4 linked regions of the Homo sapiens genome follow. The protein of the gene in region 2 purifies or fractionates together with the protein of the main gene of each other region. This does not show direct contact. Each region holds a gene or a part of one and is shown on either strand. Other genes may lie near its edges.

Region 1 (3,500 bases), on a different chromosome or scaffold from region 2:
AAAACAGACACGAGTACATGAGTACTACCACCAGCACACTACTGGTGGTGTGCTGGAGTCAGTCCACACTGGCTCATGAGAGCCCACTGTGTGCATCTCTTTCCAACTGCACATTCAGTAACACCGTGACGGTGGCTTGAAACTGTCCACAGTGAGAGTATTTACACTGCGGAAATCAAAAAACACTAAAAATCAAGGCTGGTTCTTTCCCCCTACAGGCCACTTGTTAAACACTTTCTAGGATGTCACTGTATGTGCTTATCTACTGATAAGAGTATGTGATCAAAAATATGTGGATAGGAGAGAAGATACTTCTTATATTGGAATAGGCTAGAAGGAAAAAGAAGGTATGAATTCAGATAGGATGATAAATGTAATAATAGTAGGCAGATGAGTACGTTCTAGGGTTTCTTTTGGAGGGGTGGTAGTTAGAGAATGCTCTGACTTTCTCAATGAAGTTAAGGTGAATCACTAGCTAAGAATGTATGCTGGTCATTAGAGCTGTTTGCCAAATAGTTCTGGATTCCTCCTCTGCCACCCAGCTTTTTGGGCCCAGTGTAAAATTACACTTCCTGGTCCCCTCAGGATGGATGAAACATGGGATTACTTCTGTCCAGTGAAAAATGATGGCCATCCCTTCCAGCCTGGAACATGTCATTGTCACTGCAAGACCCTCCAGCATACTCTGCACCCCTCTGCCACAGCAACCAGCTGGTGGCTGCTTGGATCTCTGAGCTACTTTAATGGGTAGTGACTCTGTGCCAACCCACAAATGATACATAAAATGGACAAGAAATATTATTGTGTGGAGCCACTGAGATTTGAGAGTTATCAGTTACTATAGCATAATCTAGCCTGTTCTGAATGAGGCAGAGTGCAGGAGATATTATAGAAGACATGCAGAAAGTGGGAGGAAGTATGCAGAAGAAAAATGAATGAGTCAAGTCTGAATGTGAAAAAATGACTTTACTAGGTAAGTGTGGTAGGACTGCCCTGCTTCTCAAAATGCCTATCTGAGGTGTTGACCATGAATTGAAAGTGACAAAGAGAAGAGTCATGTGGCATACCACTATGGATTGTCATTGAGATTGTCAGGGATCCATTAAGGATTGAGTTTCCATATTTTAGTTATCCCCATTGGAAAACAGAAACAGTGATATCGTACTTTCTATTTACATAGCTTATGAAGAAAGCAATGCAATCCTGTAAGCAGAGACCAAATATTCTGAAGCCATGAGCAGCAACTCTAATTCTATCACTATACTGGTTACTTTCTTAGCAAGTCCCTGAGGCCCCAGTATACTCAAAGCAATGATGAAGAAGTGATGAAGAAGGTAATTTCTTCACACTGTCTTAACACCTCCAGTACTCTCTGAATGGTCCTTAGTATAAAACAATAAAGAAAAGTATGGTAATTCCCAAGAACTCTGTTTCTGAACACACTCCCCTCTGGGACTAAGAAAGGAATACTGAAAATAATGCACTCATATGCACAAACGCCTGCCCACCCCCCATTAAAATTCTGCTGCCCTTATTCAACATACACTGGGTCTCAACACTGCATAAGATATATTTAATATGGGGAAATTATAACCCTATAGACCAGGAAAAACATATAACCACATAAATATCATCTGTAAATACCTTGACATAAAAAACAGCATAAAAAGAAAATAATGGCATGGGAAAATATTCCATTTTTTTCCCACTCAGATCATGTCCCCTTTCTCTCTGACCATATGTGCTTCTATTCCTGCAGTCCTCAAGTGTCCAGCTCTTAAATACTTCCCCCAGGCTCCTCCCCCAACTCCACACCTGGATGGTCCTTCCCATCCCTGGGTCATTTTCTTATAGAAACCTTTCCTGGACATGGATGAAACTGGAAATCATCATTCTCAGTAAACTATCGCAAGAACAAAAAACCAAACACCGCATATTCTCACTCATAGGTGGGAATTGAACAATGAGATCACATGGACACAGGAAGGGGAATATTACACTCTGGGGACTGTTGTGGGGTGGGGGGAGGGGGAGGGATAGCATCAGGAGATATACCTAAAGCTAGATGATGAGTTAGTGGGTGCAGCGCACCAGCATGGCACATGTATACATATGTAACTAACCTGCACAATGTGCACATGTACCCTAAAACTTAAAGTATAATAAAAAAAAAAAGGAAACCTTTCCTGAATCTCCACCCTCAAATAGGTGCCCTCTGTTATCACTCCCCACGCTTTACTTCTCTTTTGTAGCACTTATCTATTTGTAACTATATTTATTTAAACTATTATTAGTTTAATAATCTGTCCTGTAAGATCACAAGCTCCTAAAAGAAGATAGTACTAGTGGCCTGGAGCGGTGGCTTACACCTGTAATCCCAGCACTTTGGGAGGCCGAGGCAGCTGGATCATCTGATGTCAGGAGCTCGAGACCAACCTGGCCAACAAGGTAAAACCCTGTTTCTACTAAAAATACAAAAACTAGCTGGGCGTGGTGGCGGGCATCTGTAATCCCAGCTACTCAGGAGGCTGAAGCAGGAGAATCACCTGAACCCGGGAGGTAGAGGTTACAGTGAGCCGAGATCACACCACTGCACTCCAGCCTGGGTGACAGAGCAAGACTCCATCTCAAAAAAAAAAAAAAAGAAGAAGAAGAAAATAGCATTAGTATCTGTTATAGCCACATCACTTGGTTCCACATAAGTGCTCAAGACTCCTTTCTAAGAATAAAAGCTTTAAAAGACTGAAGCAGATGAGTGGAGATCTTGGCTGGGGCAGGAAAGAAAACTAAATGTAAAGAGGCATGAGAGATCTTTTTGGGGTGCTAAAAATGTTCTAAAACTACTGTGATGATGGTTGTATGCCTCTGGAAATTTACCAAAAATCACTGAATTGTACAATTTCAAAACGTGCATTTTATGGTATGTAAATTATACACATATACAGTTAATCAATAAACTTTTTGAAAAAGAAGATTGATAGATGTGAATATCTGAAAATTTAAATTTTTGTATAAAATAAATCATAAAATTAAAAGGCAAACAAACTGGAAAAAAAAAGTACAACCTATATGGCAGGAATGCAGAAACATTAATGCAGAACCATTAAAAATTTAAATACACACACACACACCCATTCACAAGCAAATTAATAGAGAAGCCTCTTAGCACATAAAAAAATTAACTGCCTGGGCGTGGTGGCTCACACCTGTAATCCCAGCACTTTGGGAGACTCAGGCGGGTGTATTGCTTGAGCTGACGAGCTCGAGACTAGCCTGGGCAACAAGGTGAAATCCCCTCTCTACTAACAATACAAAAAAATTAGCCAGGTGTGGTGGCATGCACCTGTGGTCCCAGCTACTTGGGCAGCTGAGGTGGAAGGATGGCTTGAGCCCAGGAAGTGGAAGCTGAAGTGAGCCTAAGCCTGGGCCACAGAGTGAGACCCCATTTCAAAGATAGATAAATAAATAAATATTAACTGTATCAAAGTTGGAAAATATAT
Region 2 (3,500 bases):
CAGCTATGGACCTGGGTGAGCGGGGAGCCCGGGCAGTCTCAGTAGGCCATGTGCCCAAGGGCAGGGAGGACCCCGAGACTGAGTGTGTTCCTGCAAATACTCGGCCCTGACAGCTCAACGCTCGGCAGCTCTCTGGGCAGCTGGTTGTCTGTCCATAGGTCTGGGCATGTGTGTTCCTGTCCTTCAGTGGGCATGGCTGGGGACTCTGGGGGGTGGGCTCCCACGACTACCTGCTGTAGGGTGAGGCGGGGTCCAGGCCGGTGAGCAGCCATCATGGGAACTCCCGCTGGAGGAGCTGGCACATTGGGGTGGCTCCTCGATGGGAAGGCGGAGGCAGCCCAGCTGGGCGCCACGCAGGCCTCAGAGGACATGCCATGCTGCTGGGGGGCAGAGGGCTCTGCAGGAGGCTTGTTCGGGTGCATCTGCCATAGAAGAAAGGGCACCAAAGAACTGGGAGGGACAAGGCACATCCTCTGCTAGTCAGTGACCACAGTGAAATGTCTGGAGGCCAAGACAGGGCCTGCGTGGCTGTGGCTGAGCCCCAGGGCTCCAGCACTGGGGTAGCTCTCAGGAGCTCTGCACTGCCTGGGCTGGCCCTGGCTGACATCTGACGTGCAGGGCACAGGCAAAGAACGCGGAGGGACTGAGCAGAGGCCAGGCTGCAAGTACTCACACACCTCCTCCCTGCCCCGGGGCAGCGGCCCAGCTGCTCTGCCCTGCACACCGAGGGGCTGTGGGTAGGACTGCAAGTCCTCCAATGAGAGAAAAGACTACCCGAGGGGCGGAGGCCGCAGGGCCTGCCCACATCTCCTTGTCGTGGCTTCTATGAAGAACTGTGAGCACGGCACATCGTGCTCAGGAAAGCCCTGCACGCAGCCACGGGTCAGCACTGCTGACTTGCTGAACGCAGGGCCGCAGAGGCCACGGGCTCCTGCAGCAGGAGGATGGCAGGTTTCAGAGCGTGGGAGGCTCCCTGCGGTCTTCCCAGCTCCAGACCAAGAGGCCTGCCCTCCTGGCACCAAGACAGAAAGATGCGAGCGTGGTGCCCCCTGAACGGAGAGGACAGCCTGGACAGAGGCTGGGGATGGTTCAGGCCCCCTCAGAGAGCCCACAATCCCATGGCCCACAGGAAACCATCGGGGGCCCCTCTCCTGCACCCTCTCTCTCAGTGCTCCCTGGGGGGTGCAGGCTTTTGGCCCTGGAGAAGGCACCACGCAGGCCGATAGCCTTGGCAGAGAAGTCTGGGCCAAGAAGCCCAGGGACTTGCTGTGGTCAGCCCTCTCAGGACAGGGACCCAGAGGCTTCTGGGCCATCTTGAAGTTGAGTCCAACCTTGGCCTGGCTGTTCACACACAGAGCCAGGGCCGCTGGCCCTACTTACCACATATCCCCATTCTGGATCGTTCGGTCGTTGGGAGCTCCGGCGTGTCCGTAGTGTAGCACGGCTGAGTTCTCACCACTGCAAAGAGCCGGGGGAGGGTGATCAAAGCCCATTCTTCTGCAGCAGGCTCTGAAGGAGGGGGTGGATGCTCGATCCCCTGCCCATGAGCAGCACTGTCCCCACCTCCAGCACAGGCCCAGGCGTGGCTGGACCAGGTCCACAGCCAGAGGTAAGGCCGGGGGACATGGTGGCCCTGTCACCCCGCAGTCACATGGCTGGCAACCAGCCTCAGTCTGCAGGCAGAGCCTCCTGGCTGAAGGCGTCGTTAGGCGGCTGCCCTCTGGGCTGGGATGTGGGCATCATGTGGAACACATGTAAAACTTAGCAATGGGCCGGGTGTGGTGGCTCACGCCTGTCATGCCAGCACTTTGGGAGGCCAAGAAAGGCAGATCACTTGAGCCCACAAGTTCGAGACCAGCCTGGGCAACATGGCGAAACCCTACCTCTACAGAAAATGCAAAAAAAATTAGCTGGGTTAGGTGGCTCACAGCTGTAATCCCAGTTACTCAGGAGGCTGAGCTAGGAGGATCACCTGAGCCTGGGAAGTGGAGACTGCAATGAGCTATGATCATGCCACCGCACTCCAGCCTGGGCAAAAGAGGGAGACCCTGTCTTTAAATTAAAAAAAGAGCAAAAAAGGGGAACAGCAGTTCCTGGGCCTGGAGAAGGGCCCTACGGAACCCCTCCTTTCCTGGTGGCCAAAGGGGAGAGGGCCTCTATGGAAAGGGCCCCGGCTGTCCTGGAGCTGCCCTGGCGTCCTGACCAGGCTGGAGAGAGAGGAAACCAAGAGGATCCTCGCTCCTCTGCCTGAGAAGGCTTCCCTAATGAGCGATGCCTTTAAGAAAAAAAGGACTTTTAAGTCTGTCCAAAGGGGGGAAGGAAACCCCCACCTGGGTGTAATATTTATGGCCCTGCTCAGGAGTCTTGGGAATCATAAAAGTAGAAATAATGGTTTTCTCTCCATCCACCAGAGAAGAACATTTCCAAGGACTGAGATTTCACATGTATTATTCATGTGCCGGGGACGTGCGCATTGGCAGAGCTGCCTGGCTCCATCCTGGCCGGGCAGGGGCCAGACCCGAGGGGCAGAGAGCAGGGAGACTGGCTGGGAGAGCGCAGGAGACGAGGGGGCCACGCCCACAGCCAGGACGCATGTGGGGGCAGACACACCCCAAGGGACACATGCCGCTGTGCATGGCCCACACAGCATGGCAATGATCCCATATCACTGTCATTTCTACCATGTGTGTGCCTCCAAGCACACCCAGCCAGGTGTTGATGGCACACACCCAAGCGCACACACCCACACAGAGCCCTGCCCCTCGGCACCATGTGCCACGAGCAGGCACACCAACAGTGACATGCACACCCACATACAGCAGCACTGGTCCCCACGCAGCCACACCCACATAGACACACCACCACCACTTTCTGCACTGACCCTTCCACACTCCACCCCTGCTGCACACAGAAGCTGCCCAGCCTGAGCTCACAGCCCGGTCCCCACATGCTGTGTGTGTGCCCGTGTGGAGGAGTGGCCTTCCTGTGCTTAGCTGCTGTGCTGACCAGCTGGGGACAGGAGGGAGGGGACGCCAAGCAGCCCCTCTGCAGTGGGCAGGCCATGCTCCCTCCTTCACCCAGTGCCAGGTCCTGCAGGCAGAGGCCACCTCAGCTCCGGGAGTCTTGGGAGGGAGGAGCGACTTCCAAGCTTGGGCCGGGCGCTGGTGTGGGCGTGTGAGTGAGCAAGTGTGGCTGAGCTGGGGGATGGTGGAGCCCCCCACTCACTAACTGCCCTACCTCCTCCCACTGGTCACCCCCAGGGGAGCCAGGGTGCCCCGCTTACCTGCCGCAGATGCAGGTGTAGGAGCTGTGGCGCATGCCGCCCCGGGAGTAGCAGTAGTGCTCGAAGAGGCTGCAGGGGGAGAGACGCGTCAGGGTTGGGGCACTAGAGCAGGCACACCCCACTCCACGAGCCCCATGAACCCCAAGGGAAGGCCCTCGGCCCATGGTCTCCCCTGCCGTGGCCCCACAATGGTCCAAACTCTCAGTGTGAGTCTGTG
Region 3 (2,407 bases), on a different chromosome or scaffold from region 2:
CTGGTTTGTGGACAATGAGAAATGCTGCCAAGTTCCGGGCTTGCTCTTTTCTCCTCTCTGCTCAGGCCTCTCCCTCCTCCTTCATGATTTAGGCTGCTTTAGGCCATGCAGCTGTGGTAAGTGTCCTAGGGTCACTCATGGCCACCCTCTATAGAAGCTCCCTGTGGGCTGTGAGTAAAAGTGATGTCCAGAGAAAGGGCTGTGCGTTGATGCCCCCAAAGGGCATTCCCTGAATTTTATTTGGTTTCCTGACATTTGCCACAGGACCACAGTTGGTGACAGATTCCCAGGATGCTGGCTAGGATCGGACCCAGGCGGCACTTCTGGATTCCTAGTTTTTGCTGGAGAGGGGTCGACTGCCAGATTAACAGGCTGTCTGGCAAATGGCGGCCTTCGGCAGCACTTAGGTCCGAAAACACAAAGGTTGGCCTAAGAAAACCATAATTAACTACACACACACACACACACACACACACACACACACACACACACACACTCACTAGAAATAAAAGACTAGTGTCTCTTTTAATTGTCATTTTTATAGCTCCCCACCGCAGCTGCCCCCCACCCTTCCCTTCGATGACAACGTTTGCAGGCTTCAGGGGGACCAGGGAACAAAGCTGGGGCCTGGCAGCCCCACTACGCTGCCAGCCGGGGAGAACAAGTCACAATTACAAATTATCACAACAATTAGCGCCTGTACTTGGGGGATCTGCAAATTGAGGAGGCCCCAGCTCCTCATTGTACACGGGTCTATTTGGCAGTGACCTTGCTCTGGAGACGATGATATTCCTTCAGCCTGTAAACCAGATTCAAAACAAAGAAAAATGTAAATTAACAATAACAACACACACTGGGTTCAATTAATTCAGGCAGAGCTGGGGTGGCTGGGGCAGCTGTTTGTTAAGATGTGTGTGAAGTTGCCTTTTTTTCTATTCCCTCTCCCGCCCTGGCCCCTCCTGCCCTCCAATCAGGATAATGTAATTAATTTATCTTAGGGGGAAAACATTGTTTGTCATTGTTGAAGACAAAGCGTTTAACTGGCAATAGGAGAAATGAAGAGGCCACTATGTAAGCCCTGTTTGTTCTGGGCCATTTAAAAGGGTTTATAGAGTCATAAAATACAAACAGAGGGCGCAGGAGGCAGGGGAGGTGGAGGTGACGGAGGGGAAGGGAGAGGACCCTGGGCAGATGGGCGGGCTTCAACATCTCTCGGGGCATGAGGTGCCTCCAGGGACAAGAGACTGGCTCTGGGAGAAAATGATGGCTCTGTGCCCAGGGCATGTTGTTAGCAAGAGGAGACTGACTTGCATCTTCTTCTAGACTCCAATCCCCATGAGAAGGGAGCTGGTGATGGAGAACCCACAGCAGGACAGGCCCTCCGGACTCAGCTCCACCACCTCCTAGCTGTGTGACCCTTGGAAAGTTACTTAACCACTCAGCCTGTTCCCGGGGAGTTGCAAATTTTGTGTAAGAATTAAATGAGACATCCTAGGAGAGTGTCCCAGAGCAGCTTAGTCTATGTTAGCTGCTGGTGACAAACGACCCTGTTTGCCCTTGAGCACACCGGCCCTGGGCTGAGTGTGCTTGCTGCTGGCACTGCCCCTGGCTCTTCCTGCATGCCAGGGTCTAAGCCTGAGCCGCATGCTTGATTTCCACAGGCTCATATTGAACCTTCACTGCATCTGTGAGGCAGGTACAGCTGACACTCTTACTGGTGACTCACAGAGGATCAAAGGTCTGAGTGACTTCAGATGACGTGCACCACCCTCCTGGGCCATGGAGATCCACGTGGCTAGGATGGCTTCCAGCTAGACCTACAGCTCAGGTATGGTGACAGAAAACAAAGGCTTCTCTCCACCTCTATGCTATTTCCTTGTTTAACCTGCCCTGCAAAGGAGCTCATAGTGGAGTCCCTGTGGCTTAGCGGGAGGGGAGGGCAAGTATCAGAGGCACCCGGTGGGACACAGGAACCTAGGACCCCAATGCCTAGGACCCTCTGTTACTGTCGGCTATCAAAGCATGCTTCTGAGGATGCTATGGGCAGATGGACAGGAAAGTGGGGTTTGTCTAGGGCAGGGCAGGGCAGGGCAGGGCAGCAGTCAAGGTCGCATCAAAGCCTACCCTTTACACCTGGGGGCTCTCAAAGCCTACCCTTTACACCTGGAGGCTCTGAAGGCCCGTCAGGGCCCTGAGCTTCTCACCTGAGGGAATTGATGTTGATGAACCCGGTGGCATCAGTTGGCTCATAATCACCCTGCACGTTCATGCTGCAAGGAGAGTAGAAGCTTGTCAGCTCAGCCTGGCCCTGGCCTCTGCTTGAAGGGAGGACTGCTGGGGCCAGAAGCAGCCCCACCTCCCAGATGCCAGGGCATTTCCCCTGTGTGGGTCCAAACCCTCCCTGCAC
Region 4 (3,500 bases), on a different chromosome or scaffold from region 2:
GACATTTATATATGTGGAAAGAAGAAAACATTTGCTTTTAACAACAGAAGGTCCAAGCAGAAAGCATGAAAGTCAAGGACACAGAGCTGACTCATCCTGCAGCTTTTGAAAAAAACAAAAACACCCAAAAAACAAATTCCATGAATGGCAAGAAAGTTTTCCCAAGACAACCTCCTTTTGGTCTTCCTATCTCAAATGCCTTCCATACGGCCTGCCTCCAACCCATCAAGCTCATGCTCTGCTCCCACTCCTAGAACACCATGTCATCTTGCATGTGAAACAGCAAATAATGAAACCTGGTTTCTCCACGTGGGTATGATGTGGTGCTCCAACTGGAGGGGTCCTGAGGGCAAGATCCTCCCTCTGGCATGTCCACAGTTATAAAAAGACTAGAACTCCCTCCCAGGGCTCATTGGGTGAAAAAGGAAAGACATATTCTCAAAGATCACAGCAGTACCTACTCCTGCCTCTGACCTGTGTGATAGCCATTGTCTGAGGTATAGAAGATGTAAGTGTTGTTGAGCTCCCCAGTGAACTCCAGCCTCTTGACCAGTTTCTCCACAAGGTCATCAACTGAGAGGAGAGTTTGCCACCTGGATGTGAACAGAAGGTAGAAATGGGACTTCAGGGGCAATGGCTGAGGTATCACTATCTTGCCAAAAAAAAAAAAAACCAAAAACAAAAACAAAGACACCCCCGTTTAAAAAAAAAAATCCAAAACAACCCCCGTTTAAAAAAAAAAAATTGCAAAACACTCTCCCCCAAAACTCAAATCCCCAATCTCCATTCCCTAGACCTTCCCATTGTAAAAAACAGATTAGAAAATTCCAGAACATAATTAATTCATTCCAAAGTTAATTGTTTCCAAAGAAATAAACTCGTTTTTAAATAACCAGTTAGCTTTACTTTTTATTGGCAATAGTGATGAGAGTAGAGACAATCGGAAGGAAGAGTTGTCCATTCTCAGTACTGTGTATTACAGATTAATTCAGATAGGACTGTGCTACAAAAAAGCTTAAGATGTTTGAACTAGGAGCTGGCAAGCTATGACTCATGGGCCAAAGCTTGCCCACTGTCTGTTTTTATAAAGTTTTATTGGACCACAACCATGCTCATTCATTTACATGTTACCCAGGGCTGCTTTTGTGCTACAACAGCAGAGCTGAGTAGTTGTGACAGAATGTATGACCTGCAAGCCTATTAATATTTACTATCTGCCCCTTTACAGAAAAAGTTTGCTTATCCCTGGTCTACACTAAACACTTCCTAAGAGAAAGTAATGGATTTTTAAAAATTGACTTAAGAGAATTTCTTGAAAATTCCAAATGGCAAAGGCAGATATTTTGATCTTGTCTAAGCTTTTGGGTCATTTGTCACATATGACAATGGGCTCTCTCAACCAAGTCACCTTTTCTTTAAAGCAGGAGAAAAAATTCTACCACATGGTTCAAGTTTGCAAGACTTTTGCCAAGTCCTAAAAATGGGCAGTCTAATTAGTACTGGGGTCCAAATGCCACCTCATTCATTTGAGTGTAAAGGAATCTCTCTGCTTCTGGTGCCCCATCGAAGCCTCTCTCCCACTGACTTGCTTCCCTCTGTTTTTGTTTCAGAGACAACAATGTGGTGTGGTCTCCTCTTCATGAGCTGATTTGCAGGGTCTTTAAAACCACTCAGATTGTTATGTAGCAGCAGCTCTTACCTTTTCCTAAATGCATTATCTAAAAACTGTATTGAAGAATTAGTCATTGGAGTCTTGGCTTGCCTAATTAACCAGTGCTTGTTCTAAAATTTAGAAGAAAAAAAATGTTAACACCAAGTCACCACAGTCAAACAAACTACTGGATTACTACAGTAGATAATAAATAGAACCGTTTCACTCATACTTCAGCAAGAAGGAACTAACTGGAACTTGTTTAAGCAATTTCAGAACTTCTCTCCCTTCCTGTGTTCCTAAAATAGAAATTTCTGTAGATTAACTCAATCTCTCATTCTTCAGCTTCCCAGCACCTCCCAAACCATAAAAGGTCTTGGCTTCTCTGTTGGCAGTATTAAGAGATTTTAGAGGATGTCACTGGGAAACTACTAGCTAAAGCGAGATTACATTTACAACTCTGATCTTATGCCTTTGGTCTACTACAATTAGAAAATGGGCAAATAGGGCGTAGTGGCGGGCGCCTGTAGTCCCAGCTACTTGGGAGGCTGAGGCAGGAGAATGGCGTGAACCCGGGAGGCGGAGCTTGCAGTGAGCCGAGATCCCGCCACTGCACTCCAGCCTGGGCGACAGAGCGAGACTCCGTCTCAAAAAAAAAAAAAAAAAAGAAAATGGGCAAATAACTTTACCTTCCTCTAAGTTGCTTTTTTTGAGACAGAGGCGGAGGTTGCATTGAGCCGAGATCGCACTACTACACTCCAGCCCAAGCCCAAGCTGGAGTACAGTGGCACGATCTCGGCTCACTGCAACCTGTGCCTCCCGGGTTCATGCGATTTTCATGCCTCAGCCACCTGAGTAGCTGGGATTACAGGCGTGCACCAACATGCCTGTCTAATTTTTGTATTTTCAGTAGAGATGGGGTTTCATCATGTTCGCCAGGCTGGTCTTGAACTCCTGGCCTCAGGTGATCCTCTTGCCTTAGCCTCCCAAAGTGCTGGGATTACAAGCATAAGCCACCATACCTGGTCTACCTTCCTCTAAGTTTTGCCTAGCCAAGATATCGGTCACCCTAGATCCTAAGGAAAAATCTTATTACAGCAATTTCCTAAAACTTCAAGTCTAAATCTGGAGGGCCCTCCCATTTAAACAAAGACATCCCTATATACTATTCTCTCTTCTCTATTCGTAAAACCCTAAGCCACCAGATCTCAAACTATGCTCCTCAAAGTGTTATTAAGTTTGAGAAATGCTGTATAGCATATTCTCCTGCTAGAAATTCACATTCGATCATGAATAACTCTGAGAAGTCCTGTAGCAGAGTGACTTATTTAACTCAAACTTTCCAAACTTACTTGACCATGGGAACTTTTTATTAACTTCTTTTGGAACACAGATTGAGAATCGTCCTATTTTACTATTTTTTAATTTATTTTATTTTATTTTATCTTATCTTGTCTCATCTCATCTTATTTTATTTTATTTTGATGGAATCTTGCACTGTTTCCCAGGCTGGAGTGCAGTGGTGCGATCTCGGCTCACGGCAAGCTCCGCCTCCCGGGTTCACGCCATTCTCCTGCCTCAGCCTCCCGAGTAGCTGGGAGTACAGGTGTCCACCACCACGCCCGGCTAATTTTTTGTACTTTTAGTAGAGATGGGGTTTCACTGTGTTAGCCAGGATGGTCTCAATCTCCTGACCTCGTGATTCGCCCGCCTTGGCCTCCCAAAGTGCTGGGATTACAGGCATGAGCCACTGCGCCCGGCCAGTACTCTAATTTAAAACACAGTTCACTCAGCTTTGAAACTGTATTTAACAAGCACATGCCTATAATGTGCCAGACAATATGCTAAT

Evidence for each region.
Region 1: the proteins of PEPD (region 2) and FTO fractionate together in Homo sapiens (co-fractionation; one large-scale study listed by BioGRID). This does not show direct contact.
Region 3: the proteins of PEPD (region 2) and ASS1 fractionate together in Homo sapiens (co-fractionation; one large-scale study listed by BioGRID). This does not show direct contact.
Region 4: the proteins of PEPD (region 2) and GNS fractionate together in Homo sapiens (co-fractionation; one large-scale study listed by BioGRID). This does not show direct contact.

Annotation. Positions count from the first base shown.
Region 1 is NC_000016.10:53,819,156-53,822,655, reverse strand, and holds part of FTO (alpha-ketoglutarate-dependent dioxygenase FTO), read right to left. Parts: intron 1-3,500.
Region 2 is NC_000019.10:33,410,292-33,413,791, forward strand, and holds part of PEPD (xaa-Pro dipeptidase), read right to left. Parts: intron 3,353-3,500; coding exon 3,284-3,352; intron 1,459-3,283; coding exon 1,381-1,458; intron 1-1,380. UniProt on the Homo sapiens protein: Dipeptidase that catalyzes the hydrolysis of dipeptides with a prolyl (Xaa-Pro) or hydroxyprolyl residue in the C-terminal position.
Region 3 is NC_000009.12:130,499,368-130,501,774, reverse strand, and holds the end of ASS1 (argininosuccinate synthase), read right to left. Parts: intron 2,271-2,407; coding exon 2,205-2,270; intron 800-2,204; coding exon 754-799; 3' UTR 501-753; downstream 1-500. UniProt on the Homo sapiens protein: One of the enzymes of the urea cycle, the metabolic pathway transforming neurotoxic amonia produced by protein catabolism into inocuous urea in the liver of ureotelic animals.
Region 4 is NC_000012.12:64,738,907-64,742,406, forward strand, and holds part of GNS (N-acetylglucosamine-6-sulfatase precursor), read right to left. Parts: intron 1,783-3,500; coding exon 1,700-1,782; intron 594-1,699; coding exon 475-593; intron 1-474. UniProt on the Homo sapiens protein: Hydrolyzes 6-sulfate groups in N-acetyl-d-glucosaminide units of heparin sulfate and keratan sulfate.